Regions from separate parts of the Homo sapiens genome. Here region 1 is linked to region 2. Evidence: fine-mapped expression QTL. A gene starts in region 2. The other region holds a variant in brackets. All regions are shown on one strand. Distances are between the middles of the regions.

Region 1 (2,912 bases), 57 kb after region 2:
GTTTATAGCCCTATATGTACATTAGAATCACAGTGGTGTGTTTTTACAGTTCTTGATTTGGTTTTAACAGGCTGAACTTCCGATAAAGCATGATAAGATTGAAAAGGGGCATTTATTTTAGCTGCCTTCAAAATACCACTAAGATTAGTGTAAAAGAATGTAAAAGGTTTGATCCACATGGAGAGAAAAAGAGAGTTACCAAACACACACAAAAATTGCTGAGGAAATTGAAAACCCACCATCTAAGGCAAAGCAGGGGGAAGTCATATTAGAAGATATTTCTTACAGCAGAGCCTAAGAAATACTTAATATTTGAATGCACCAGGTCCACAGAAAGCAGGACTAAAGAGCAGAAAATAGGGAGACTGATTTTGGTAATGGTTAAGTATGGCTATGTGGATTAACTCTTCTCTGAAAACAGAAGTCTTTTTATTAAAAAACAAAACAACCTTAAAGACATTAAAAAGCTGAAAGGTCAGCTGGAACTACTAGATCAATTTTTAGATGAAAGCCTGCAACCTGAAATTTACAAGTGGAACTCTGAAGAGCATGAAAGCTACTTATGCCTTCAGACCCATTTGCCAGTGATGCTTATTTGGAATCCAATCCCTGGCCCATGTGGACTGAAAGAGAAAGAAGTCAAGGTTTCACATCCACTCAAAGTATAAAGACTTAAGAGAGATTTTCTCCGTATTAAACTAGGTCTTTGATAGGCTACTACGCTCTTCAGGTAAGGGCAAAAAGATATACAACGTACCCTGCCCCAAAATAGCAAAGTCGCTGAACAAAGTTTAAAAAGGAAAAGTATTTGAGAAGTGTGGCCACAAGCCAAACAAACCCCTTGACAACCTCCTTGCACGCCCCAATCCCCACTGACCTTTGCTAGGCATAAACTGGATAAGGCAAGAATGTTTTACCTGAATTTGGTCTTGGTATGTGGTGCCCCTGGTACCTGGCAGAAGCAAAACCGAAGTCTATCTAGGAGAAAAACATTCATTAATCTTAATAAATTCCCATCAAATTTTCCATTGAAAATTAACAGTAAGCACTCAAAAGAGGCCTAAAAAGAAATAAGACAATGCGAATAACAACTAATAGAAACAGAACATAGCAAAAAAAAAATCACCTGTAAATTTCTGATACTAAGTATATTAGAAGAGATTTTAAAACCACAATATTTATCATGTTTTAAGAAATAAATGAGGGGGGAGGAGCCAAGATGGCCAAATAGGAACAGCTCCGGTCTACAGCTCCCAGCGTGAGAGACGCAGAAGACGGGTGATTTCTGCATTTCCATCTGAGGTACCCGGTTCATCTCACTAGGGAGTGCCAGACAGTGGGCGCAGGTCAGTGGGTGCGTGCACCCTGCGCGAGCCGAAGCAGGGCGAGGCATTGCCTCACTTGGGAAGCGCAAGGGGTCAGGGAGTTCCCTTTCTGAGTCAAAGAAAGGGGTGACGGACGGCACCTAGAAAATCGGGTCACTCCCACCCGAATACTGCGCTTTTCCGACGGGCTTAAAAAA[C/T]GGCGCACCACGAGATTATATCCCGCACCTGGCTCGGAGGGTCCTATGCCCACGGAGTCTCGCTGATTGCTAGCACAGCAGTCTGAGATCAAACTGCAAGGCGGCAGCAAGGCTGGGGGAGGGGCGCCCGCCATTGCCCAGGCTTGCTTAGGTATACAAAGCAGCTGGGAAGCTCCAACTGGGTGGATCCCACGACAGCTCAAGGAGGCCTGCCTGCCTCTGTAGGCTCCACCTCTGGGGGCAGGGCACAGACAAACAAAAAGACAGCAGTAACCTCTGCAGACTTAAATGTCCCTGTCTGACAGCTTTGAAGAGAGCAGTGGTTCTCCCAGCTGGAGATCTGAGAACGGGCAGACTGCCTCCTCAAGTGGGTCCCTGACCCCTGACCCCCGAGCAGCCTAACTGGGAGGCACCCCCCAGCAGGGGCACACTGACACCTCACACGGCAGAGTACTCCAACAGACCTGCAGCTGAGGGTCCTCTCTGTTAGAAGGAAAACTAACAAACAGAAAGGACATCCACACCAAAAACCCATCTGTACATCACCATCATCAAAGACCAAAAGTAGATAAAACCACAAAGATGGGGAAAAAACAGAACAGAAAAACTGGAAACTCTAAAAAGCAGAGTGCCACTCCTCCTCCAAAGGAATGCAGTTCCTCACCAGCAACGGAACAAAGCTGGATGGAGAATGACTTTGACGAGTTGAGAGGAGGCTTCAGACGATCAAATTACTCTGAGCTATGGGAGGACATTCAAACCAAAGGCAAAGAGGTTGAAAACTTTGAAAAAAATTTAGAAGAATGTATAACTAGAATAACCAATACAGAGAAGTGCTTAAAGGAGCTGATGGAGCTGAAAACCAAGGCTCGAGAACTACGTGAAGAACGCAGAAGCCTCAGGAGTCGATGCGATCAACTGGAAGAAAGGGTATCAGCGATGGAAGATGAAATGAATGAAATGAAGCGAGAAGGGAAGTTTAGAGAAAAAAGAATAAAAAGAAATGAGCAAAGCCTCCAAGAAATATGGGACTATGTGAAAAGACCAACTCTACATCTGATTGGTGTACCTAAAAGTGATGGGGAGAATGGAACCAAGTTGGAAAACACTCTGCAGGATATTATCCAGGAGAACTTCCCCAATCTAGCAAGGCAGGCCAACGTTCAGATTCAGGAAATACAGAGAACGCCACAAAGATACTCCTCGAGAAAAGCAACTCCAAGACACATAATTGTGAGATTCACCAAAGTGGAAATGAAGGAAAAAATGTTAAGGGCAGCCAGAGAGAAAGGTTGGGTAACCCTCAAAGGGAAGCTCATCAGACTAACAGTGGATCTCTCGGCAGAAACCCTACAAGCCAGAAGAGAGTGGGGGCCAATATTCAACATTC
Region 2 (2,912 bases):
GATTTTCTTAATGGTTCATTTATGTCAGGCTCTATGGTGGGGACTTTTATGTTATTTGACTTAATCCTCACAACAATTCTGAAAAATCTTTTTTCAAATTTTATGAGAAAGTGAACTGGATATTTAACTGATTTTCTCACGAATTCCTTCTGAGGCTCAGAAGTGTGAAAGAAGCCCAAATGACCAAGGTTCTTTAACAATTTGGTCAAAACAGGTCATAGACCCAGAGGAAGGTCTGGATCCTGGAAGTTTTCTTAAGCAAAGACAGTGCTTGTTGTGGATATGAAGATGTTGACTAAGCTGGGCACAGTGGCTCACACCTGTAATCCCAGCTTTGGGAGGCCAAGGCAGGTGGATCACCTGAGATCAGGAGTTCGAGACCAGCCTGACCAACATGGTGAAATCCTGTCTCTAGTAAAAATACAAAAATTAGACAGGCATGGTGGTGGGCACCCATAGTCCCAGCTACTGGGGAGGCTGAGGCAGGAGAATCACTTGAACCTGGGAGGTGGAGGTTACAGTGAGCTGAGACTGCACCATTGCACTCCAGCCTGAGCAACAAGAGCAAAAAACTCCATCTCAAAAAAAAAAAAAGATGTTGACCAAATGGCAGACTCTTGCCATGAAGCAAGCCCAGACCTCAGTGCCAAGAGATGTGAATTAGATTCCTGCCTCTTCCACAGACTAGACATGTGACTGGGGGCAGATTCCTTCAGCAATATCACCTCATTTGGAGAAGAACTGGACTAAAATACCCTCCAAGTAGTTTATGAGTTATTTAAATCTCCCAGGCTTAGGTTTGCTCCTCTCTTAGGGGATAGCCTTGCCACCCTTCAGGAAATGGAGACTGTATATGGAGCATGTTGTGCCGCCAGCTGCTGCATGTCCCAGAGCCATCTTAAACCCTACCCTTCTGAACAATGGCTAGTCTACAAGAAGCCTTAAAAGGGATGTGAAAGTGGCAACAGTGTCCCCTCAACAACAAATACTTCCCCAAATATGAGCTTGTGTGGAGCCTGATGACTCTGCCTCTGAGGCCAATCCACTGGCATCTTTCCCAAGATGTGCCTGGACTTCCCTGAGCATGAGGCCAAAGATGGAGAATGGAAACACCCAAAAGAAGTAACAAGGAGACACGGAATTTTCCACAGGTTGCTTTCAGCTTACCAAGAGCCTGGAAAGTGAGAGAATAGATTCTCCAAAATTCAAAACTAACATTACTATTATCAATATTTATTGTCTACTTTTTGTAAACTCTTTGCATCTTTTTTCTTTAATTCTCCCAACACCCACAGAGTGGAATTATTATTATCCATCCACCATTTATTTAATAGACAAGAAAACTCAGGCTAAGCAAAACTAGATGACTTAAATAATTCTATGTAGGAGTAGGGAAAATGAATTTTAACTGGGACCGTACAAATCACTAGTCTGCACAAAGGTCTTTTTCTCATGTGTCACTTCTATCTTGTGTCATTTTGCCAGACCTCAGAATTTAGAAAGAGGAAGCAGAGGCACTTTTTATATATCAACTGTCTGTAACTACAGCAAAATTCACATCCTGTGTAATCATAAATACTGCTCTAAGAAAGGGACAGGAAGTCTCAGAGGCTGGAGAGCAGAGCACCAAGATCGTTCTGGCAGGAACAGCCAGTGGGAGGTTCCAGCTGAGCGCTCCCCAGAGGTGAGCTGATCCCCAGCCACAGCACACAGGACCAGGCTGCGAGAACAGGTAGACACCTTGGTTTAGATCATGACTTTTGGGGAAGATTGTGTGCTTTTGAAAAGACAGCCAGGGAATTGGATTATCATCCTGTCTCTGATTCTGACCACCTGTGTGAGTTGGAGCGTCAGCTCAGTCCCCTTTTTGGGTCTCAGTTTACTCACTTGTCAAATAAGAAAATTGGGTAAAACCATTCTTAGGTTTCCCTCATTGAGGTGATTTTCCTCAATGTTCTGCATTCTCCTGGTGTGTCACTCAGTCTTACAGAGTCTACTCTCAACAAATACTGTGCAATTAGACTGAATCTTGCATTAGAACCCCATGGTCCTACTCTAATTCTGTAATACAGAAAATTGCTGGGCAGAGCTGTTGACCTCCATGTCATGATTTATCTTCAAAGCACGGATTTTAGAGCTGTCTTGAAAGCTGTGGGTCCCTCCAGTCTATCTCCTCAAGGCGAATGTGGAAGGACAAAGCATCCTCTCAGACTGTGGTGTTTGGAGATGATAGCATCAGTCTGGAGACTTTTGTGAAACATAAAGAATCTTGGTTATATAGGATTCCTTCTAAAAGTAGCAACGTGTATCTAAATTCAAGTGTCATAGATTTAAATGTAATAATTCCACTTCCATACATCACTGTGAGATAATTAAATGCAGGAGGTATCACAAAAGTGCAAAGATGTTCATTATTGCATTGTTCATAGTGGCAAAAAGAAAAAATAGAAACCACCTAAATAGTCATGAACATGTGATTGATTAAATGAATCTAGAGACCTCCATTTATTTAAATATACCATTTGGCTTTTTGGTTGTAGTAAAATATGCTTAAAATAATTGTAGCCTTTTAACCATGTGTTTTTTTGTTGTTTTTTGTTTGTTTGTTTGTTTGTTTTTTAATTGAGAAAGAGTTTTGCTCAGTCACCCAGGCTAGAGTGCGTGATCTCGGCTTACTGCAACCACTGTCTTCCAGGTTCAAGCGATTCTCCCATCTCAGCCTCCTGAGTAGCTGGGATTACAGGCACTCACCATCATGCCTGGCTAATTTTTGTATTTTTTTAGTAGAGACGGGGTTTCACCATGTTGGCCACGCTGGTCTTGAATTCCTGACCTCAGGTGATCTGCCCGCCTCGGCCTCCCAAAGTGCTAGGATTACAGGCATGAGCCGCTGCACCCAGCCTTAACCATTT

Alleles and levels. Positions count from the first base shown, and alleles are read on the strand shown. Sizes are in standard deviations (SD) of each study's normalised expression.
In carriers of allele C in region 1, the expression in monocytes of the gene that starts at base 1,600 in region 2 tends to be higher than with T alone (moderate effect, 0.62 SD a copy in CEDAR).

The links.
Region 1: its variant is fine-mapped to the expression of MS4A7 in monocytes (CEDAR, PIP 0.95).

What each region holds. Positions count from the first base shown.
Region 1 is chr11:60,434,214-60,437,125 of GRCh38, forward strand. The region is part of intron 4 of MS4A5 (membrane spanning 4-domains A5); the gene reads left to right. Among named protein-coding and RNA genes, the nearest start is that of MS4A5, 6.1 kb to the left of the region's middle. The variant C/T (reference allele first, on the strand shown) is at 1,523.
Region 2 is chr11:60,376,933-60,379,844 of GRCh38, forward strand. MS4A7 (membrane spanning 4-domains A7) reads left to right here and starts at 1,600. Exons shown (of 7, transcript NM_021201.5): 1 at 1,600-1,732. RefSeq lists enhancers at 632-871, 1,552-1,601.